2 separate regions of the Homo sapiens genome follow, and region 1 is linked to region 2. Evidence: fine-mapped expression QTL. A gene starts in region 2. The other region holds a variant in brackets. All regions are shown on one strand. Distances are from middle to middle. Region 1 overlaps LINC01095 (long intergenic non-protein coding RNA 1095). Region 2 holds the start of REELD1 (reeler domain containing 1).

What was found. PIP is the estimated chance that this variant, and not a neighbour inherited with it, causes the effect.
Region 1: its variant is fine-mapped to the expression of REELD1 in whole blood (INTERVAL, PIP 0.91).

What each region holds. Positions count from the first base shown.
Region 1 is chr4:146,106,392-146,118,315 of GRCh38, forward strand. It overlaps LINC01095 (long intergenic non-protein coding RNA 1095), which reads right to left. Exons shown (of 6, transcript NR_038331.1): 2 at 7,901-8,074; 3 at 7,251-7,365; 4 at 5,210-5,359; 5 at 4,920-5,082; 6 at 3,064-3,475. It overlaps LOC105377469 (a long non-coding RNA gene), which reads left to right. Exons shown (of 3, transcript XR_939294.1): 2 at 1,494-1,689; 3 at 3,147-3,234. Among named protein-coding and RNA genes, the nearest start is that of LINC01095, 9.6 kb to the right of the region's middle. The variant A/G (reference allele first, on the strand shown) is at 5,405.
Region 2 is chr4:146,208,744-146,220,667 of GRCh38, forward strand. REELD1 (reeler domain containing 1) reads left to right here and starts at 5,795. Exons shown (of 8, transcript NM_001354631.1): 1 at 5,795-5,951; 2 at 6,333-6,455; 3 at 8,199-8,417. The coding sequence starts at 8,210.

The sequences.
Region 1 (11,924 bases), 100 kb before region 2:
AAATTAGCTTGGCATGGTGGTGAGCACCTGTAGTCCCAGCTACTCGGGAGGCTGAGGCAGAAGAATCGCTTGAACCCAAGAGGCAGAGGTTGCAGTGAGCCGAGATCTTGCCACTGCACTCCAGCCTGGGCAACAGAGCAAAACTCCATCTCAAAAAAAAAAAAAAAAAGCTCCTATAGAACACAGAACTCAAGATACTGACACCATTGGTCTTGTAGCTAAGATGCCTGGAAAGTCTAAGTGTCTATGTTGAGTGTTTACCTTTTTCAGGTGTGACTTTTCTGAGAAATTGTAAGTATGTCATGTCTTGGACATTCTGGGCATTCCAAATCATAAAATAGGATTCCAGATTATTCTGAATGGCTGTATTTACATCATCCATTTCAACATCCATGTCAACATACATGTTGCTGAAGGGGTAGCTTTGGGAACTACTGCTCTGAACACAAATTAATGGTAGGAGGTACTGACTGAAAGCATCATGTGGTAGAAAACCCCAAATGCTTTTTTCAAGAACTATATATGAACTGTGTTTGTGCACGCACAGTTGTATGCTCATAAACGTTAATAAATTGGTATTGGGCAACACAATTAACATTCATTTCATTGGAGGCCCACAATATGCTAGGATTTTTTTCCCTTAATGATGTTTCAGAGCAGGATGCTTTGGTCCGAAATACATTGAAACACGCAACAATGAAATTCTATTTCTTTCTAGTAGTATGTTAAAGGCACCATGGGGGACACAAAATTATGAACCCCAAACTGCACCCTCAGGTTATTTACAGCCTATTAAGAAAAGCCATGTTTTTTCCCAATAACAGAGAATTCAAATACAGCTAGTCCCTGTGTTTGTTGTCAGAAAGAGAAAGAAAACCATACTTTGTTGGGACACATCATTATTAGTGTAACAATATATAAACATATGTCAACATGAAAAGCTTAATTTAAAGTATCATGGCATTACAGATCCCTTGTCTGAAGAATAAACTCAGTCAAAGAAAGTTGGAATGACTTGCCCGGGGTCACATAGTACTGATGATATCAGAACCCAGCTTTTTGACTTCCAGGTGGAGAATTACAGGTAAACTGAGAGTCCCTGGCTGGGTTTGGTCAGGTCCTTTATGGCTCTATAATGCTACGACTCTCTGAGAACTCTATGACCATGCTGCCACTCTCCTGACATTCTTTTAATTAATAAAATCACTCAGCTGAACAAAAATAATGGTTTCATTAAGATGCAGAAAATGCCACATTTAATCACTAAAAATGGCATAGTGTATCATTCACCTTAGGGAAATTTTTATGTTTAAATATGCAATATAGAGATATTTTAGATAATTAGCAACAAGGAAAGGCAACTAATCTATTATTGCATAATATTTGATTACCTATTAACTTCGGCCATGTAATTGAACACATAGCCAATGACTGTCACTTCCTGGCACTAAAGCCCAGGTAGATACTGCTCTGTTTTCATTCTGTCATTCTAGCCATTTCTAGGATGAATTTCCTTTTATTTGGAAGGAGGTTTTAAACTGAGCATTTGACGTCACATTGTTACCCACTGAAAAGTGCTCTCTGTAAGTGCTTCCTGAAGAAGGCAAGGTTGAAGTGAACCCTTTCAAACCAATGCGTGGCACTTTGTTAGCATTTGCTGAGTGTCCAGCACTAAGCTAGGCTTGTGAGGTAAGAAAAGAAAGTTTGTACCTGTTTTTATCACATGGGGCCAGTTACCTTTGTCTGCCTTCCAGGCCCTGGTTGCTAAATCCTGGGAAGTCTGTAATTACATTAGAAGATGGGATTATTAGTGATAAAATGTGGTGTTTTATAGATAGTGCTCTGAAACTTTGTTTCAATGGCCTTTCCCACACAGTATCTCAATAACCCTAAGGTAGGCAGGAAAAAAAATGTTACTGAGGCTCAGAGAATTTAAATGGCCTGCCTGAAATGTGACAGAAGGCAGACCCAGGACTAAAATGGAAGTCCTTGGAAGCCTGGCCCAGGGCCGTTCCTTCCTCACAAGGAAGGACTTGTAAAGAGCTTGCTTAATTCAAGGTTCCTTTGGCCTGGGATATCCTTTTGCTCATGCTCACCTGATGCCTCCAAGATAGGATTTCTGGGTATCCCTTCTTACCTGACATGCGTTCTGGCCACATCTTAGCCTGTAGTGCTCATGTACCTTCTTAGTCTCTAATCTGTCTATTGGTGCTTTGATATGTTAACCACGGGCTATCTTACTCCCTCAATTTTATTTTTGGATAAATTGGAGAAAACAGTTTTAAAACGATGAACTATAAGACTTTGATGCTGATTCTTTATTCTCAGTCCCAAGCTTTGCCTATACTTCAAAACAGATCTCAATGGACAAGGAAAAATAATATCAGCATTTCACTGGGCATCTAAAGTGCTAGGCATTGTGCTAAAAACTTTGAATGTTTTTAACATTGTATCAAGATGGGGACTGAAGGGCTTTAAACCCAGGCAGTCTGAATCCAGAACCCAAATGTCAGCTATGACACTGCTGTTGTCTCCCACAATGCCATACTTGCAAGTTTTGTGTAACACAGAGCATTTAGAAATCTCTTTAAAATTATGAAATTCTGGGTTTTCTTCCCCTGCTGTGGCCCAAACACAAACTAAGAACATACCTAACGAACAGCTGCAATTGATATTTTCATCTTAATTAGGGATTAAACATCAAATAAATTATTCTATTTAAGATGATTTATGATGTCCTAACTTTTCCAGTAGTTCATTTCAAACAGATTTTTAATAGTAGGAGAAAACAGTACCATAGTAACTTTTTAAAGTATGTGTGGGAAATTAACTAAAAATATTAAAAAGATCACTCACCCACTGTTAGCCTTTATTTTTTACCCCAAAACAACATGAGAAAATGAGTTTTTTCTTTTACCTTTGCTGTACCTTCCTCTTTGAAAATAAGCCCATTAATAAGAAGATATAAAAGGAAAATGTATCTCAAGACAAATTAAACTTTTTAAAAGAAACAGTTCTATCAAAACAAGTTTGCAAATAAAAAATAATTACCAAATGAACATATTAGGGGAGTGTAGCCATTAGGCATGTTTTTATTATGCAATAATTTATCCATGAACAGTTTATATTTCATATCCATATTACAGTGTTTTTTTTCCAAGTCACTGGGAGTACTCAAGCAGAGCTGATGAAAATTCATCAATCTGGGAAGTTCCAGAAGGGATTTTGCAGTGAGTAGAAAGTTGAAATCTTGGATGATAACGTCCCTTCCAATTTGAAGATTCTATAATTTCCAACTTAGGCAACTGACATAAGGTGAGTATCCTCATGGACTTGATTCCGTAGTGATGGTGGAAAGCAGTGGTGGACTATCGTGAGCTCTGGAGCCAGCCTGCCTGGTTTTGCTCTTGGACTTGATCACTTAATTGCTGTGTGAACTTGAGCAAGTTTCCCATCTGTACCTCAGTTTCCTCATCTGTAAAATGTTGATACTAATAGTATGAATCTCATAAAGTTGTTGTGAAGATTAAATGAGTTAATGTAAGTAAAGTGCTTGAAACAGTCCCTGGCACAGGGTAAATATTCTATATAATAGCTATGCTATTATTTTCCAATAATAATATCGGGAAAATAGTAGATGATACTGGAATAATATTCCAGCAATATTGGAATAATATTGGAAATTGTAGTCCAAAAATATTGGACTATTATCTGATCCATCTTGTGGTCTCCAATATGAAACAAACAGTAGCCCATTGTGAGGTTAATTATGGTGAGTTAAGGGCTCATATCTTGTCTGAAGCAAAGGAAATAAAGAAAAGAAGAGGAGAGGTAAAATGAGGAATTTTATTTAAAGGCAGCAGAGAGATGTCTAATGTTCAGGGAGAAAAATGAACACTCCATAGGCCTAGTCCATCAGGAGTGAAAGTATGACAGGAGAGAAAAAGCCAGTGGTACACAGTCTCTTCACACACACACACACACACACACACACACACACACACACTCCTCAGCAAACACATTTGGGGATTACTGGTCTATGTGCATCTTAAAGTTTTCACTTTAGCACTAGTGTTTAGTTCTAATATTGACCTATGGCTTCAATTTGGCAGCTCAAGTCCACACATTTGCCCTGAGCCCCTGCTAAGTAGCAAGTGTTGTGGAAGCAAAGCATGCTGCCCAAGGGTGCACAGTCTAGGAGGAAGGGGCCGACAGGACTGTGCCCACACTTTTCACTGGGTGGTAAGTGCTGTGATCAGCTTCTATGCTGGATGCTATGGGGGCTGGGAGAAGGCCACCTGACAGCCTACAGGGACAGGGAAGACTTCCAGGCAGAGGTGAAAGCTTCACTTAGACTTGAAGCAGGTATTAGGCTGATGAAGAAAGTAAGCCAAACAAAACAAAACAAAGCAGAACAAAACTCCGAGAAAATTAGACTAAGAAATGTTTTAATTCCTTCCATAAACTTTGAAAATAGGCAGGCCTAGGCTTGAATCCTCGTTTTGCTATTCACTAGCGATGTGACTTTGGGCAAGTTACTTAAACTCTCTGAACTTCAATGTAGTCATCTCTGGGACAGGGTCCCTATCTTATTGTGTTGTTCTGAAAATTAAAGGAACAATGTATGATCACCTCATAACCCAGTGTCTCCCACAGGCTTATTTTGAATATCTGTGGTATTAAAACACTCATACTAAAACATAATAAAAGAGGAAGTAATGATTTGTTGAATTTAGAGGAAGAAATAATGACAAGGAAAGCCAAAAGTAGCACAACAAGCTCTGTATTTAGGCTCATATATCCATTCTTGCCAGAGCCGCTAAGTCAGAGCTGGGGTGGAGAACAACTGGCCAAAGTCCATTACATTCCATCTAATGATAGGTCTGTTGGCAGGTGGGGGGAGGCTATCAGCAACTCACCTTGTCCAGTACCCTCCTGTTATAATACAAAGCTCCAGCTCAAACTGAAAACTTAAAGTACAATCAGCCAGATCCACCTTCTAATGACTATGATGTTTAAAGCATCCACAAAAGTGAAATTCAAATTATTGATATGTTTTAGTAGCACCATCCGTAATTTCACCTAAACATAAAGAAGAAGCAAAACAGGAGCAGGAAAGTCAGTCTATGATAAAAGCTCCCATTTATCACAGGCCTCCTATGAGTTAAGTACTGTTTATTTGCTATTTCTAACGCATATTGCAACTTACAAGGCAGTCCTGTTCTCCTTCACAAATGAAGCATCCACAGCACAATTGGTGACTTCACAAAGGTCCCATGGCTCCTAGGTGGGAAGCCGCCAGAAGGCAGATCTGATTCTAAAGCTGCTGTCTGCATGCCAGGCTAGTACAGCTCTCAATCTGGGATCAGGAAAGAGAGGTACCACATGTGGTCAAGGAGCTCCC[A/G]CATCCCCAGGAGTCCAAGGGTTGCCATTCTTCCTCCTTCTGTCTCTGTGATGTCACCACTACAATGTTGTCATATTGTGAACTGTTCTGGTAAGTTACAAATTTTTCCACAGAAAAGAAGAGAAAGGGCTACCCAAAAAATGGGAGAGGAAAAACTAATCGTAAGTCTTCAGAGCTAAGTGAAGTTAAGAACCTGACCTTGGATGGGGGTATCCTAACCCAGCGGTGGCCTTAGTCACGTCATACTTCTGCTTCGCAACTGATCCCAGATACAGACACAGTCTAATTGAAAAGAAGGAGTTATCTGGTTGTGAGGTGTATTAACTTCTTAGGTGAAGTAAAATGCTTTGAAACAAGGTGAATTTTAAAAATCAGATATCTTGATTCAAATCCGGTCTTTGCCACTTAATAACTGTGTGATTAAGCCTCATCTACTTATCTTCTAAATGAAATTAATAGTATTTACTTCACTTTTCTCATCTCTAAAATGGTGATAATAATACCTATCCTCCTAGCATGATGGTAAGGATGAAGTGAGAATAAAAGCTAGCATGTAGAAAATAGTAACCGAAGTTACCTATTGATAATTTTCTGTGATTATCTTAATTAGCTACAGTATAGCATTCTTACATGAAGTACCTGGATGTGGTAAATAATCAATAAACAGCAGCTATTATTATTAACAGGGCACATTTTTGTATTGGTGCAGGTCTGCTGGTGGAAATAAATGAAAGGAGGAGAAATCCTGTGTGTGACAGCACAAATGCAAAAATAAAACCAAAAACAACAATAAGAAAGCAGAAGTGGAAGGAAAAGAATCTTAGCTTGAGTCAACCAACTTGTTACCAGAATTCAGTTATTAAAAATCTCTATAGTGTAAATTTAGCCTTTAGAATTTAATTTTTTTAACTTTCTCTTTTGTTTTTACCAAAGTCCACTTTGAAGAGTCCAGTCTTCACTGGACCAAGGAAGAAAGGAAAATAAATTTAAATTTTTATGTATTTAGTTAGTTTTGCTTTGTAAAAGAGAAGAATCCAGCTCAGGTTCTTAACTCCACTCACCTCTAAAGAATTCCCAGTCATATTTCCCTCTCCCTTTTTGGGTGATGCTTTGTCTATGTCTATGGTAGAGGAGAAATGGGGAAGAGACACTGCAGGGGTGATGAGGACAGAATTTAGAGCACTGTAGAGAGAGGGGAGATTCTGGGGAGAGAGTGAGAGGGTCCTTGTGCAGTGATCCTTCTCCTTGGAATGGTTTGTCCCTAAAAGCTACTCTGCTTCTTTCCTGTCAGGGATGTTAGCAGAGCTCAAATCCTTATGAACCCAAACTCCCAAGCCACTGGATCCGGTGAGATGGCTGGAACTCAGCAGGGTCAGCATGAGGAACACCGCGAGGACTGCTGAAACACCACATTCCCATGGCTGCCGCAGGACAGCGGGGTGGCTGGAAGGCACAGTGTCTGTGAAACTGTGGTCCTCGGCAAGGGGTGTGACCTCATGGTGGGTCGCCTGACCTATGAGCAGAGATGGAAGGAAGAATGCCAATTTGGAGGCAGATGTGGGAAGTAGGAGTGCTGTGGCAACACGGTGTGGAAATAGGGAGTTCTCTTCAGGCGTGATGCTCACAGTTTACATAAATCTATTGATCTATGTATTTACCTGCCTACCTCTATGTGTGCGTTTGTCTGGGTGTGGGGTGGAGCAGTGTGAGGTGGGTTCAGGAACCGTGTTTGTGAGGGCTGTCTGGGGAGACAGAACCAATAGGAGCTATATCTGTACTGATATTGGTATCTCTACTGATATAGATAGATGAGAGGGGATGTATTAGGGGAATTGGCTCACACGACCTTGGTGACTGAGAAGTCCCACCACAGTCCATCTGCAAGCTGGAGACCCTGGGACGCAGGTAGTGTGGCTTCACAGCAAGTTCAAAGACCTCAGAATCAAGGGAGCGTATCTGCCCTAAGGATGAGATCGGGAAAAAGCCTGCAAGCATGTGTTTGAAAGGAGGTGAGAGAGGAAGATCAAGAAGGGTTTTCCCAAGTTACGGTTGCAACGCAAGAAAGGGAAAGGTGAGAAGAGGGACCCGAGCCCAGGCCTTGGGAGGAAGAGGAGGAAGAAGAGGGGTGTGGGCCCGACCCCGAGAGCAGACCAGGGCTGCGGTCAGAGCTGGTCGCCAGATGAGGACGCCTGGGCAGCTGGCCTGTGCCTGAGCAGAGGTGGCTGAGGTCCAGGAGGCAGAGAAGAAGAAATGGAGCCTCGCACCGCTGCTCCTAGCTTGCCCAGAGGGAGAAGGGTGATGGGGCTGTTCCTATGCACTCAGGACCGTGGCTCTTGAACTTTATGTGTCGGGAAGGAGGCAAGGGCTGAACTGGAGAGTGGGCCATTCATTTAGTTCCAGCGTCCCAGGAAATGCTCTTTTCCCCGCGGGAGCCTCTGCCTGCAGCTGTAATGACCTTGGACTAGAAGGTCAAACTCCAAAGGCTTGAAACCGCACCTGCAGCAGGACTGGCCACCTACGTTGTGGGGTATCTTTAAAATAAAATGCTGCACTGTCCTGCAACTGTCAGTCTGAAGCAGAAGTCCTGAGTGCCCAGGGGCAACTGGTGTAAGTCCTGGAGTTTGAAGGTCATAGAGCCTGGAGTCCAACCGCAGGAGGAGAAGAGTGTCCCTGCTCCAGGAGAGAGAGAGAGAAAAAAAAAAATCTCTTTTTGTGTATGTGCTGTTGTTGCCTTTTTTGTTCTTATCTGTGCCCCCAGCCATTTGGATGATGCCCCCACATTGAGGACAGGTCTTCCCCACTCAGTTTACTGACACACACTCCAGTCTCCTCTGGAAACCATCTCACAGACACACCCAGAAAGAATGCTTTACTAGTTCTCTAAGTATTCCTTAATCCAGTCAAGTTGGCACCTGAAATTAACCATCCTAGGGACACTGCTATTTTTAAATCTACCTAGAATTTGCACCTCTGACTCTAGAGATTGAGGCAGAATTCATTTTCAGGGAGACTATCCTTTTGATTTGAAAAACACCGATATAAGCTCTTTAGTTAAACAAAGATAGGGCCATGCTTCTATTCTGGAAGAAACAGATTAAGATGGAGCAAAGCTAAGCTGCTCATCAGAGATTTTTTTTTTCTCTAATATATTTTATGGCTTCCTCAGGAAAGAAGCAGGCCAGGGAAGAGTGGAGATGGGCAGAGTGGTGATAAAACAGGGGGCTCATGGAGAGGAGGAGAAATGGACTTTAGCACCACAGTGGCAGGCAGGAGCTTAAGAGCAGAGTTTAATTCCAAGGGATTCCTTCGATGGGGTTATGACCAATCTGCTTTAGGAGCAGTGATACAGAATTTTCTATCTCCCTTTTGGTGGTGCTGTGGTTTGGATGTTTGTACCCCAAAAAACTTCATGTTGAAATTTGATCCCAGTGTTGGAGGTGGGACTTTATGAGAGGGGTTTGGGTCATGGAGGAAGATCCCATATGAACTGATTAATACTCTCCCTCAGGGGTGAGTGAGTTCTCATCTCATTAGTTCCCGATCCAGCTGGTTGTTACAAAGAGCCCGGCACCCTCACCTCTCTTTTGCTTCCTTTCCATATGATCTCTGCATACACTAGCTTCCTTCCTCTCGTGTCGTGAGTGGAAGCAGCCCAAGGTCCTAATGGCAGATGCCTAATCCTGAACCTTCCAGCCCATCAGAATAGTAAGCCAAATAAATCTTTTTTCTCTGTAAGTTACCCAGCCTCAGGCATTTCTTGATAACAACGCAAAATGGACTAAGGCATGTGGTATGACTCCTCATGTTATTCTCAAACCCTCAGTAAAGTTTTGTCACTCTCTATGGCTGGTGTCAGCCATGTTGGAATAAAGAGAGGAGCTGGTGTCCACAGGGGGCAACCGATTAACAGAGAGATAAGGTTGGGAGATGACAAGAGGAAGCACGGAGCTGGTGTAAGCATTCCCTGACAAATCTTCAGAAGTTCTTGCAAAAGAAGACTACATGTTTCTTGTTCACACAGGATGGGATTCACAATATTTGAGGGAGGGATATTGTCATAGACATTGGGGGTACCTGGTAGCACATGAACCCACTTTTTATGTTTAGGGATGTCCTCACTGTATGAGTCTCCATGAGGGTTAGAGACCTCCACTATGGAGGTCAAATAGGCCAGAGACTTGTTTTTCCAGCCTCCTGCCCTGGAGAGGGGGCATGTGACCTAGGCTTGGCCAGTCAGGCACCACCCCAGGACTTTGCATTGGAAGCTAGTGAACCGATGAAGAGGAGTGGTAGAGAGTCTATTCTGAGGAGTGGGGTGGTGGGGTAGAAGGCAGCTAAAGCCTCCAGTTTCCTGGGGCACAAGAGAGAGTAGGATTGGTAGCATTATTTAGTTGAGAACATCCAAGAAGCAGATGCCAAGATGGGATTCGAGATTTATTAGGGAAAGAAATTCATTAGGGAAAATGGCTCTGGAGGATAAAGAGAAAGGGAGTGGGAGTTGGAGAGAGCCATTAGATTGGGAGACAGGTCTAACAACTGTAAAAGGATAATGAGAAACAAAGAATGGTGGGAAGAGCCTCAGAGTGCAGCAGAATTCTGAGACAATCTTGGCTTGGCCAATGGAGAGTCTCCAGGCAAAAGCTGCTGTGTTCATTTTTCTATTGCTGCTGTAACAGGTTACCTGACCCTTTGAAGCTGAAACCAACACAATGATCATGTTGTATTGTATATCTGTAATTTGCTAAGAGGGTAGATCCCAAGTGTCTTTACCATACCAAGAAATAAAAATAAAAAATAAAAAAGAATGGTAACTATGTGAGGTGATGGAAATGTTAATTAGCTTGATTGTGGTGAGGAACACAAATTTATTATCTTACAATTCTGGAGGTCAGAAGTCTGACATTAGTGCTAAAATCAAGGAACTGACAGGATTGCTTCCTCTGAGAGCTTCAGGAGAGCTGGGGCCTGCCCTTTTCAGCTTCTAGTGACTGCCAGAATTCCTTGGCCTGTGGCTGCATCACTTCAATCTCTGCTTCGGTCATCACCTCTCCTACTTCTCCCTCTGATCGCCTGCATCCCTCTTATAAGGACCCTTGTGGTTACACTGAGCCCTAAGTAATCCGGGATACTCTTCCAAGATTACATGTGCAAAGTCCCCTTTGCCCTATAAAGTAACATTCACTGGTTTCCTCTGCTGGTGGCAAGTGCAAGCTCTGATGTCCAGTGTCTAGTGCTATTAGCAGCAGTGCCCATTGCTCATGTTCTTGTGGCATGATTTGTACTTGGGTTCTAGATACCTAGAGTCTCTCTTCTTCTACCTGTTTTCTGAACCTTCTCAAAATTTCCTGGTGTTTCTGTGAGCTCCTTGGTCATCTTTTAATAAACTTCTTTTCTACTTAACTCAATCAGAGTCAGTGTGGCTGATCATTGTTAGGTTTGGTGAAAACAGGAGGCTCTGTTCCTAAAAGGAAAAGGGGAAATAATTGCTCTAATTTTAGAGACTAAATTTTCCAACCTTCCTTGTGGCCAGGCATGGCCATGTGACTAAATTCTCATCAGGGAAATGTGAGCAGAAGTGATGTGTCTAACCTCCATGTCACTTCTTCAAAAGGAACTCCTATGCACAATCCTTCCTTCTTTTCTCCCCTCTTCTGGGTTCAGTATGTACATGGTATTGGGGAGTCAGCTTGCTTCAGTGAATAAGAGCAACATTTGAGGAGATGACAGGGCACCTAGAAAGATGGAACAAGGCTCTCTGGATGATTTTATGTAGCAGAACCACCTTCCTATGTTTGTGGGTCTGTGTTCTTGTGGGTTGTTATGTGAGAGAGAAATAAGCCTATATTGGTTGAGCCACTGTCTTTGGGGGTCTCTTTTGAAAGCCACCAGCCTATTCTAGGTTTAGTGTGACCTAATGAAAACAGCCAATTTATGTCTAATATTCCTGGCTAGTTCAGATATAAGAACCAGGAGTGATTCCAGCATCTCAGGGAAGGGGGAGAAGGAGGGATTCTGGGAGTAATTGTTGGGAAAGTTGGGGATGAGGGCAGTAAAATTTCAGTAGTAGTATTTAAGAATGAGAATTTGTTAGTCTATGACATGCAGGGGTAAGACAATGACATTTTAGGGGTCTGAGTAGCCACTGCCACTGAATAGCATAGGTGGAAAGAGTCACACAAGGAGGCTATGGGGTGAAGTAATTAATACTAACAGTCAGGAGTAGCTTAAATAAAGAAAATAACAAACTCAAATCACTAAATTCTCAGCCCAAAGCACAGTTAGAAAAAAAGGGAGTCATATATAACTATGCTAAAATAATCTCTTGCAGCAGGGCCAAAATAGCTGCAAACCAAATGCAATGGTTAATTCTGAATTTTGCTTTGATCTGTTGAATTCTCAGGCTTGTCAGTAGAACACTGAACATAAAAATGTGGAACCCTGATCACTGAAATGGGGATATATGGAAGGATTCAGAGGCCTCATAAGGTTTTGATCCTCCAATTGCTGCTGCCCCTCTGAG
Region 2 (11,924 bases):
CTGTAAAGTGGAAATGGGATTAGAACATATTTTATAGGATCATTGTGAGGATTAAGTGAGTTCATACATGTTCAATGTTAGCTGTGTGCCTGGCACATGGTAAGAGTTCAATACATGGGACCTATTATCCTTGGAAAGGTTGGAAAAAGGATGCATTAAAATAAGTGGAACACATAGAGTTCTGAACAGAGAGATCCATGTTCCTTTGTCTTCTTTAGCGTAGGTCTATGCTACATTATTTCACAGATAACTTACGATGTTCATAGTGCTGTGCTACGCATCCAAGCTCGGCAATTTTAAGACAATTCCTACCCTACAGGGATTTAGAGCTAGGTCAGTAGGAAAGATGGCACACTTAAAGCTGATCAGTTGCAATCCAGGGCGGTGTATGGGATCAAGTGCCTACACAAGGATAAAGGGTATACATGGTGTAGGATCCTAAAAAGATACGATAAAACATTCATATACGTATAATAGAAGTCCCCAGAATTATTCAATGCCAATCTTTGAGGTTCATTTTTGCATGCAGTCACAAGATATGAATGTTTAGGCTTTGAAAAGGGAAAAAGAGCCTCTTAATCAACTCCAGGTAATGCTTTTTCTGTCCTGCTATAACGATACATGATCATATTTCTCTAATCATGAATCTCGTTGTTTTGCAATTATCTGCTGATGCATTGCTCTGCTTTACCAGCCCTGGAGGAGTGAAGACTATGTGTTATTCATCTTTATATCCCCTGCCCAGAGCCCATGACCTGCACTTAGTAGGCATTTAATAAAGGTTGGCTGAAGGAATGAATAAATGCTCAGAGTACATTTCCAGTGTAACTAAAATTGAATGCCACCAACTCCCCTCTTTTGGACATAAATTATAGTACTTGTCCAGACTCCCTAAATGCCAATTTTTGATCCCCACTTTGCCTCCATACAAAAGGTCTCCAAGTCTTACTTCCATTTACTCTCTCAACATCTCAGTCCCCACTATCCTGCGTCAAATGCACCTCATTTTATGTCTGGATAATTACTACAAACACAGCTAGTGTTCACACCTTTGTTCAAACTCTCTCTCCTGCTTTGAATATCCTTTTACCCATCTCATCTGTCTAAACTCCACCTAACCTCTAAAATCAACCATATTTTCCTGATTCTACTTGAAATATTCTGGCATCCCAGACTCTGGTAACCTGGCTTTTATCTCTCTTCTGATCATAGCTTGTTTACTGCTCTGCATCACTGCTAGAGAGCATCTAATCCTTACAACACCTTTGTGAGAAATCTAATAGTCTCCCCATTTTGCAGATGGTAAAACTGAGGCTCACCAGCATTAACTTTCCAAGGTCATGTAACTAGTTTGCTGTCTGACTTCAGAGCTCTTTCTTCTTTACCTTGCTACCTCACCCCAAGTAAAATGTCAGTTCCTAGGGAGAAGATCCTGCCGATACTTTATCAGCAGACTCTCTTGCAAGTTGCTTTACAAATAGTAAGAATTCAAATATTAATTAACTTAGAAATCCTGTTTGACTGTACTGTTCTTTAACAGGGATAATGAAGGAGAGGATTATTGGGTAGAATAAAAGCACTAGGCTGGGCACAGTGGCTCACACCTGTAATCCCAAGATTTCGGGAGGCAGAAGCAGGAGGATTGCTTGAGCCCAAACAGGAGTTTGAGACTAGCCTAAGCAATATGGTGAAACTCTATCTCTACAAAAAATACAGAAATTAGCCAGGAGTGGTGGCACATGCCTATATTCCCAGCTACTCAGGAGGCTGAGGCTGGAGGATCACCTGAGCCTGGGAGTTGAGGCTGCAGTGAGCTGTGATTGCACCATTGCACTCCAGCCTGGATGACAGAGTGAGACCTTGTCTCAAAAGAAAAAAAAAAGGCACTCAACTTTTTTTTTTTAAATGGCAGAAAGTGCACAGTAGCATGGAGGATGATGCAAAAGTCAGCAGACCTGCTAAACGTACATGAATGACCATTGACTTCCCACTTTCATGTAGAGTTTAAAGAGAATTGTATTTTTCTCTTACATAGATTATCCCAGCACTCCAGAAATCTTCAGATAGTTTTAAAAAATCTATCTAAACATTAAAATGCTAATCACAATGATGATACTGGAATAGCAGATTTCTATGTAAAAACACCAGTCAATCTCAGCAGGAAGTCATTACCAAGGTAGGAAAAACATTTGGATAGGAAAGACTGTTCATGAGTTACAAAAGCCATTATCTTCATCTCCAAGATCTTTGAAAATGAAGAAAATGTCCACTTGTCTGCTGGAGTGAAGGAGCAGGAAACAGGACTAGAATAGTGAGCTCAACAGGTTCCTCCTTCATTTGCAAACTTTTCCAAGGCAGACTCTTAAACCAGGAGTGAGTGTGGGATGGTGTCAACGCAGGTTATAATTACGTGCCAGACTTTAATGCATGCCATCTCAAGCTGTTTTAAGAGTAGCTCATTCTTATGCCTTTATAACTAAAATAAAACCTTGAAAATGTGTATCATTTTCTTGCTGGAAGAAATAGAAGAGATTATTTAATTCAAACCTTTTTATTTTATACCTGAGGCAACCCAGAGAAGTTAAGTGATTTACCGAAGGACACAGAGTATCTGATTTATAACCATAAAACCCACCCCAAGACTTTCCCTTGGTATGACGTTAATATTAACTGTTCTACTCAGGGCCAGGGGATGTTAAGGTAACAGATTCAATCATGTTAATATATCAAGTCCAGCCAAATTGCTAGTGTGAAATGACCTCAAGCAGATTCCCAAAATAAAAGCAACAAACAAACAAAACACAGTATTTTCTTGCTTTCCGGGTGCACACAGCTGGGTCTCCTTCATGTGGGTGGGGATTGGAGGCCAACTCACTGCTGTCTCTCGGGCTTCGGGCTTAGCGCATGATCTGGCTCAGAGCCACACTCTCTCACCGCCTCCTCTCCGTGGTGGGCACCAACCCTCTCTGTGGCTCAGCCAGCTTTCTCTTTCCCCAGACAAAACAGGTACAGAGCCCTTCCTTTGTCTCAAACCCCATACTAAGTACCAACTCCTTATTATTTATTACCTCACTGAAACTTCACCAGCACTTCGGGATGCAGGTACAGGAACTGGTAGTTATCTTCATCTTGTAGATTATGTTACAAAGCTATTCTATAGCAAAACTGTAGGGAAAAACCTTATCTATCACTTCCTGAATGCTGTGGGAACTTTTGGCAAGTTACAGAAACACTGTGACTCAGTTTCCTTATCCATAAAATGAGATAACAATAGTGCAGACCTCATTGTGTTGCTGTATCGATGAGGTAATTTGCCAACTAGCTGACTAGAATAGTGTGTGGTACTGTGCAGGCATTATATAAATATGCTGTTATGTTTAATTACTATCCTGTCCCCTCAATGCCTCTTACACATCCTGCACGTGGTACAATACGGCCTCAGGTCTGACCCCACACCATGACCTATGGCTCAACCACCTTCCTTTGTACAGACCTGCGCTGATAAATATGGTAGCAGCTTACCACATGTGGCTCCGGAGCACTTGAGATGTGTCTAGTCTGAATTGAGACGTGCTGTAAGTGTAAAATACCACTGGATATCAAAGACTTACTGTGAAAAAAAGAATGCAAAATATCTCACTAATGATATTTTATATGCTGATTGCATGTGAAATGTTTTCAATATATTGAATTGACTAAATTTATTATTAAAACAAATGTCTTTTGTTCCTTTTCACGTTTTTTAAAAATAAGGAGAGTCCAATTTTTTTGTTTGTTTGTTTTTGAGACAGGGTCTCACTCTGTCGCCCAGGCTGGAGTGCAATGGCAAGATCTCAGCTCACTGCAACCTCCACCTCCCAGGTTCAAGCAATTTTCCTGCCTTAGCCTCCAGAGTAGCTGGAATTACAGGCACGTGCCACCATCCCTGGCTAATTTTTGTATTTTTTGGTAGAGATGGGGTTTCAACATGTTGGCCAGGCTGGTCTTGGACTCCTGACCTCAGGTGATCTGCCTGTCTTGGCCTCCCAAAGTGCTGGGATTACAGGCGTGAGCCCCTGCGTCCGGCCTAGAAAATTTTAAATTACATATGTGGCTTGCATTCTATTTCTATTGGCCAGCACTCGTATAGAGTAGCCTTGTATGTGTTCTTGGTCAGATTCCCAGGGAGAGTTTCTGTCTCAGCCCTGAGTCAGCAGGGCCCTCGCCTGTGATGAATGCCCCCCTGGTACAATCAGCTTTGTCGGGAGAGTGGCATAAGATGCGCTGCCGGCTCAGCAGAGGCTGTGGGTGTGGCAGGCAGGATAAGGCCATGTCTAAGATATGGTGTCCTCCTGATTTTCAACAAGAAATATTACATGAGCAAATGGCAGGATTATTTATTGAGCCATGCAGGTGCGCTCTCTCTACCTTTGCACTCCTCTCCTCATTCTAATTGGTAGTTGGGCCTTTTGAGAATCCGTATATCCAGGGAGTTTGTGTTTCAGGGGCAAAGCTGAGGTGTTGGAGATTACCACTCTACCTGTGGTAGGTGGATTATGCCAGGTGGCCCAGGGTAATGGGGTGAGAGTAAAAAAAAAAAGGAGAGGAGGGACACTTTTGTCTCTAAGACTGGGATAGGAGCAGAGTGGAGTGGAGAAGAGGTTAGCCACTCTCCTGCTAGGGGCAGAGATCTGTGTCAGGACCCAGTGGAGGGGGTGGGAAGAACCCAGGCCACAGCCTTGCTGAAGACCTGAGCCCCTTTTTGGCATAGAAGCCTTCCAACTAACAGTCTTCAAGTGACCACATGAGCTCTGAAAACTATCATAACAGCAGCCATGGAAGGAATGTATCCTAATTTTCTAGACCTCCCAGAATTTCTCATGACTCAGTGGGAGATTGAGATTGCCTCCAATCCTAGTGGGATAGAAGCTTAGAGAAACCAAATTGAATTTGTTTGCTTTTGTTCTGTGTGTGGGGAATACTGGTATCCTAGGCCAAGGAAGCCCAATTTCCCTTGGTGTTTATAGGATAGATAGTCTCATTTACACTTGCAACAAAAGGCTTAGCAACCTGGTCCCTAAGCCAGTGCCTTGCCTATTCAGTCACTCATAGCTTTAGTTTTTTCTGAGTGGAGACAAGGCCTAACAGTCAGAACATTGCTCTCTCTGCAGCCCCCTACTCCACATCACCCAGGACTATCAATCCTAGGATTCTCTCTTGGACGCCTTGCATTCAAACAGCCACCAAATCCTACCTCCACCTGATCTCCTGATCTCCCAAATCCATTCCTCTCTCTTTTTCTTCATTGTTAATGTTGCAAGCTTCTAGGTGATGCTGGTGTTGCACTCTAGGGACCACACATTGAGGAACACTGATCTATAGGCTCTCTGGTATTATCAGGTGTCTCAGCAGATTCTTAGATGAATGAAAATGTGAACTCCAGCTTTAGTGCAATTGATACGGGAGGTGCCTATGCCACGTGTTATTTTTTTGTACCAAACGTTGCTCTTGGGCTAACGTATCAATTCTATTTCACCAAGAGTAACTTCAGTCCACACTGACTCAAGAAGCCAAGAATGCTGAGATGCATTTCATTCAAACATTCTCCCCTTTGCAGGGAGATCAAGATGGAGGCATCCAGCTTCTGCCAAGGATGTCAGTGCCAGTCCTGTGCAAAACCAGTTCCGGTTCTTTCTAGTTCTTCACGCAGGCTTGAACAATGATGTGACTGTAAACCGTGTGTGTGTGTGTGTGTGTGTGTGTGTGTGTATGTGTGTGCTAATACGATTTAGGTTGGATTTGGACACTGAGGAACAGTTCCTGGAGATGCTGAGGATTAGTGGTAGCAGCTGTTATTCTCCCCATTAGAGGAAAAACTGAAAGGAGAAGAAAATACTTATGTTTAAGGGATGTGTTTGCAACTCTGCGGGAGGAAGCCATTCTATCAAGCCTGAAGAAAACTGTGTTCCTAGGTAAGTGGATGTTTTTATTTATTTATTTTTGTAGAGACAAGGTCTCCCTGTGATGCGCAGGCTGGTTTTGAACTTCTGGCTTCAAGTGATCTTCCTGCCTCGGCCTCCCAAAGTGCTGGGATTACGGGTGTGAGCCACCATGCTCAGCTCCAAGTGGATAGTTTTCAGGGTTCAGGTAGACAAGATGCTAGTGGGAAAGAAGACACAGTGAAACCTAAGGCAGGAGGGTGGGAGGTGGGGCTGTGGCCGTAGTCTGTGAGTCCAGGCACTCACTCCCCTTCCCTTGTAGGCAACTGTGTCTGATCTGCCTTTGGAAAGACCACTTGCCATCAGCAAGGACTTGAGGAGCATTTTCATTTCATTTCTTTCTTTTCTTTTAAGAGACAGGGTCTTGCTCTGTACCCAGGCTGGAGTGTAGTGATGTGATCATAACTCACTGCAGCCTCGACCTCCTGGATTCAAGTGATCCTCCTGCCTCAGCCTCCTGAGCAACTGGAACTATAGGTGCGCACCACCATGCCCAGCATTCAAGGGGCATTTTGTATGTGGCCCTTATGAAAGAAAATGAGAAGAACCCTGAGCCCCCTTGACTGAGAATGTGCTTTTACACAGTTCATCTTCATTATCTCCTAATGTGTCTGAGAAGCTGTAGCCATGGTTCCTTGTAGTATGGAGATGTGTGACTTTGGTGCTTCATAGAAAACAAACTTAGAAAAGAAAGGCATTGTCTGAAGGACTCTTATGTCTAAGAAATTTGAGGTATAGATCATATTCCTGTCTTCTTTTAGCTTGTGAATGTAAAAGGTGGTGTTGTGTGAAGAGACAATGGGAGTGGAGGACACTTGATTATTTGGTTTATGGATTATTTCCTTAGTCTATTGTTCTGATAGCTAGTTTTACTACATTTTCAGGATTTTATTTTCACCTTTTAAAACCAGCTGACTACAGGGGAGGGCATTTTTTTTTTTTTTTTTTTGCCTTGCATTGTTCCTTAGGTCAAAAAATTAGCCAAACTTCTAAAATGCCTGTGTGCAGGACTATAAAAAAAAAAACAGAACTTTTTTTTTTTTTTTTGAGATAGAGTCTCGCTCTTTTGCCCAGGCTGGAGTGCAATGGCATGATCTCAGCTCACTGCAACCTTGGTCTCCCAGGTTCAAGCAATTCTCCTGCCTCAGCCTCCCGAGTAGCTGGGACTATAGGCACATGCCACCACACCCAGCTAATTTTTTGTATTTTAGTAAAGACAGGGTTTCACCGTATTGCCCAGGCTGGTCTTGAACTCCTGTGCTCACGCAATCCACCTGCCTCGGCCTCCCAAAGTGCTAGGATTACAGGCGTGAGCCACCGCACCTGGCCTAAAACAGAACTGTTAAAAAATGCCTGTGATAATCCTAAATATTTATGTAGGCAGATTTTCATCTGCCTTGTTTGCTATCTCTCATTTTATTTTTGTCATCTTCTTTTACATTGCCAAATTTTAATTCTTCCTCTTGATGGGAATTAGAGGTAGTAAACAAAAATAAAATTTACTCTATAAATGCTATTTTATTCAATCATTGTATTCTATTCCTGAGCCAAAATTGTTATCAGTATGTTTAAGAAGTTATAGAATAAATTGAGTATTTCTTTCTCTGCTCATCTTCTTTACTAAAAGTAGTGAAATAGCTAAAAACAGCCAAAGAAAGGGCAAAGAGATATCAAAGCATTGCCAGCTTAACAGTCACTTCTAAATAATTGATAGTTGGTAGATGTTTTGTAGCACTTAACTTGGTAATTTTCAATTGCAACAGAGATAAGATGCTCAGCCAAGCCATCCCATGCCATGCTGCCTGACCATGGTGGTGTATTGAGTGTCTACTTCAGATAATGTATCAGAGGCCACACCGCCTTTGGGTACCAGTCAGCTTGCAAGGAGCTCACGCTAGGATACAAACATTTTCTGGTTTTATTTCTTTGACTCAATAATTAAAGCCTCTCTTTTGAACAACAACAAAAAAAGCAGTCTGGTCTTATGAGAAAATTACAAGAACAGAAGTTTTTAAAAAGGTGTTTGGAAATGAAACACTTCCTATAGCCTGGCATTTCCTTTTGATCTTGGCCTTGAACATTAGCAATCCTGGGAGGCTGCACTAAAAGCATCTCAGGTACAGAGGCAGTGTGGGGTTCAGGTTAGTCACATCCCGAGAAGACTTTATGTCGTTTTCCTAAATAACGTCTGGACTGAAGCTGCTGTTTGTCATGATACAGGAGAGGGCAGGATGAGGATGCAGGCTGCCCTCGTGGGCTGGGCTTGTACCACCCTCTGCCTGGCTTCCTGCTCATCTGCCTTTTCCCATGGTGCCAGCACGGTGGCCTGTGATGACATGCAGCCCAAGCACATCCAAGCCCAGCCTCAGCACCAGGACAGCCACCACATCACCATCCACACCCACAGGACTTCCTATGCACCAGGTGACAAGATTCCAGGTATGTACCAGAGAGGCTTAGAGAGACTCCGAGGAGCCCCAGAGCCCCCATGGACCTTCCAGTTTGTGTTTGTCCCAGTCAGAAGCTTCCTGGACTAAATTTGGCTTAATCCCTTTTTTTTGTTTTTTGTAGAGATGGAGTCTCACTGTGTTGCCCTGGCTGGTCTGAAACTCCTGGGCTTAAGTGATCCTCCCACCTCAGGCTCCCAAGAAGCTGGGACTACAGGCACATGCCACTGTGCCCTGCTAATTTTTTGTATTTTTTTTAGAGACAGGGTCTTTGTATGTTGCCCAGTCTGGTCTCGAGCTCCTGGGCTCAAGTGAACCTCCTGATTCAGCCTCCAAAAGTGCTGGGATTACAGGCACAAGCTACCATGCCCAGCCTGGCTTAATCTTAAGAAGCAATTATCAGGTTAAAAATAAGCATAAAATATTTGTGTCATAAAAACCACATGATAACTAATCTCTGTATTAATTGTGATCTGTATAAGAAGACACAAATATTATTATAGATAATTATTTTGTCCTTACCATAAGATATAAATGTATCTTATTACGGACACAAATATAGTTACTCTGAACAACCTTCATGTATCATCTATGTGTGTGAAATACACTTTTTTCTCATTATTTAAAACTAAAATTCATCCATCAACAGACACTTTGGTGAGATGATGGATATTTTAATTTGCTTGACTATAGTAACCATTTCACTATGTGTAAGTATATCAAAACATCATGTTGTATACTTTAAATATATACAATTTGACATTTTTTAAATTAAAATATTGGGGGATGAAAAAATCATTTCCTGTTCTTTTAGTTTAGGTGCCTATAAAAGCAGGGAAAGAACGTGAGCGCAGGTGGTTTATGTGAGAGATCATCCCAGGAAACACAGGTGAGGAAGAGGGAAAGGGAGCTGGGCAAGAGGAGATGCCAGTCAAGGGCGTGCAACTGAGCAGGTCTCTGCTGTGGGCAACCGAGGTGCATTCCAGTGGGGACCCTCTGAGAAGCCATGTGAAACACCTCTGAATCATCTCTCAGGAAGATGCAGGGGCAGGGAACTTACCAGTTTCGGGTTGCCCCCACCAGGGGTGTTTCTACCTCCATGCCCCGCCCCCACTCCCCAAACTCACACACACTCTTCAGAGTCCACAGCTTACCTTGGACCAAGCTTGGAAGTGGCAGTGAGGGACAGCAGAGAAGGAAGCTACAGATACTTCAGATGCCACGAAGTGTAGGCAGAGAACTATGCACCCAAGGTGAGCTCCAACACATCAGCAACTTTTGCCCTAAACCCCTCTTGATTTTTGCTGATTCTTTTGATAGGAACTAAAGGTGATAAACAAAAATGAAATTTACTCTATAAATATTGTTTTACCCATTCATTTCGCTCTCTTGAGAAGTGTGAAAAAACATGGGTGGATAGTATATGAGTTCAACATCAATATACTCCCCAATATACTGAATTAAGTCTATTCTAATAGAGCTTCCCAAACTTTGTCACATCATGACACAGAAAGTGAGTCTGTGTATTTAGCACACCGGGGCAAATGCAAGAGGCTCCCCAAGGAAGGCCACTTCTTTGGGGGCTCCATCCACCCTAGAGTGCATCCAGCCCCTCCCAGCATGAAGGGATTGGTATGTCAGTATCCTAGTGTTCTGTGGCTAGGGGAATAACAACGGTAAGAATCAAAACACTATGTCAGCCAGGCATGGTGGCTCATGCCTGTAATCCCAGCACTTTGGGAGGCCAAGGTGAGTGGATCACTTGAGCTCAGGAGTTTGAGACCAGACTGGGCAACATGGCAAAACCCTGTCCCTACAAAAAAAATACAGAAATTAGCCAGGCATGGTGGCTTGTACCCTGTGTTCCCAGCTACACTGGAGGCTGAGGTGGGAGGATTGCTTGAGCCTAGGAGGCAGAGGTTGCAGTGAACTGAGATAGCCCCACTGCACTCCAGCCTGGGTGACAGTGACAAAGTGAGACTCTGTCTCAAACAAACAAACAAACCCCAAACCAAAAAACCACTATGTCAGTGAGAAAAATCTGCAGAAATAACTAAAAATATTGTGATACCTAAATTCTGAAGGTATCCTGAGGGAAACACAATTGGATTGTAACTGGAACCAAGACAGCATATGTAATAAATGACTTGACAGAGTGCCTCATGGATTCAATGAGAGTCAGTTATTACTGACTTACGTTGCAAGTATACTGTTTTCTTGCCGGGATCTGTGAGCTCCTTGAAGGTAAGGACCATGTTATCCTGCTCATAGATACATACTCAACTCCTAGCATAGTGCTTGGTGTTCAATAGTTCTAAATATTTGTTCAAATGTTTATTAAGAAAAGTTCAAATGTGTGGAAAATAAAACAATCCTAGACACCAAGCTGCATTTAGCAAACTTATAAAGGTCTGACCCTGATTTTAGCCACTCATTCCCTTGAACATGAGTGGCTTTTTTAAAAAAAATTTTAAATAGCTTGAAGATATTACATGCTTTAAAAATGTTAGAATACTATCAAAAGGTAGAAAATTAAAAGTACTTTTCCTTCTCTGGCTCTGAACACTCAATTTGATTCCCCAGAGGTAACCTTTGTTAAGTTTCTTGCACCTCTTTTCAGAAGTTTTCCATGCATTTAAGCATATGTGAGTGAGATCTCAAATTAATATAATCTTAAGCAGACACAAATTAAATGTCTGTTTAATGTTTATATTTTTTACCTAACAATCAGACTGATATATTTTATTGGATACAGAATTTTGTTTTTTTGTTTGTTTTTTTGTTTGTTTTTTTAAGACAGAGTCTCACTCTGTCACCCAGGTTGGAGCGCAGTGGCGCAATCTTGGCTCACTGTAAGATCCACCTTCTGGGTCATGCCATTCTCCTGCCTCAGCCTCCCCAGTAGCTGGGACTACAGGCACCCACCACCACACCTGGCTAATTTTTTTGTTTTGTATTTTTAGTACAGATGGGGTTTCACTGTGTTAGCCAGGGTGGTCTCAATCTTCTAACCTCGTGATCCACCCGCCTCAGCCTCCCAAAGTGCTGGGGTTACAGGCGTGAGCCACCGTGCCCAGCCACAGAGCTTGTTTTTAATGATTTCATGACAGTCCATTGTCTAGAGGTCGCATGATTGATTTAACCAGTTTCTTATTTATGGGTATTTACTTTTTAAATTTTTTTCATAAATGGTTTTGATGGATATCTTTATTCATATGTCTTTGCTCACTGTATGCATCAAGATTGTTTTAGTTCCAAGTATCAGAAAAACTGATTAACAGAAACTTAATGAATAAAGACACTTAATTTTCTCTCTTAAGTGTGGAGGCACAGTTTCTGCTTTGGGTGAAGCCATTCAATGACATCATCTAGATCCTAAGATTTTTCGATTTTCCTGCTCCGCCATCATCAGCGAGTTGGGATTTCATTCCTTTGACATCGCACAGTTTCAGGATGAGTGCCATGGTTTTAGGCCTCATACTGGGATGACAGCTGAAAT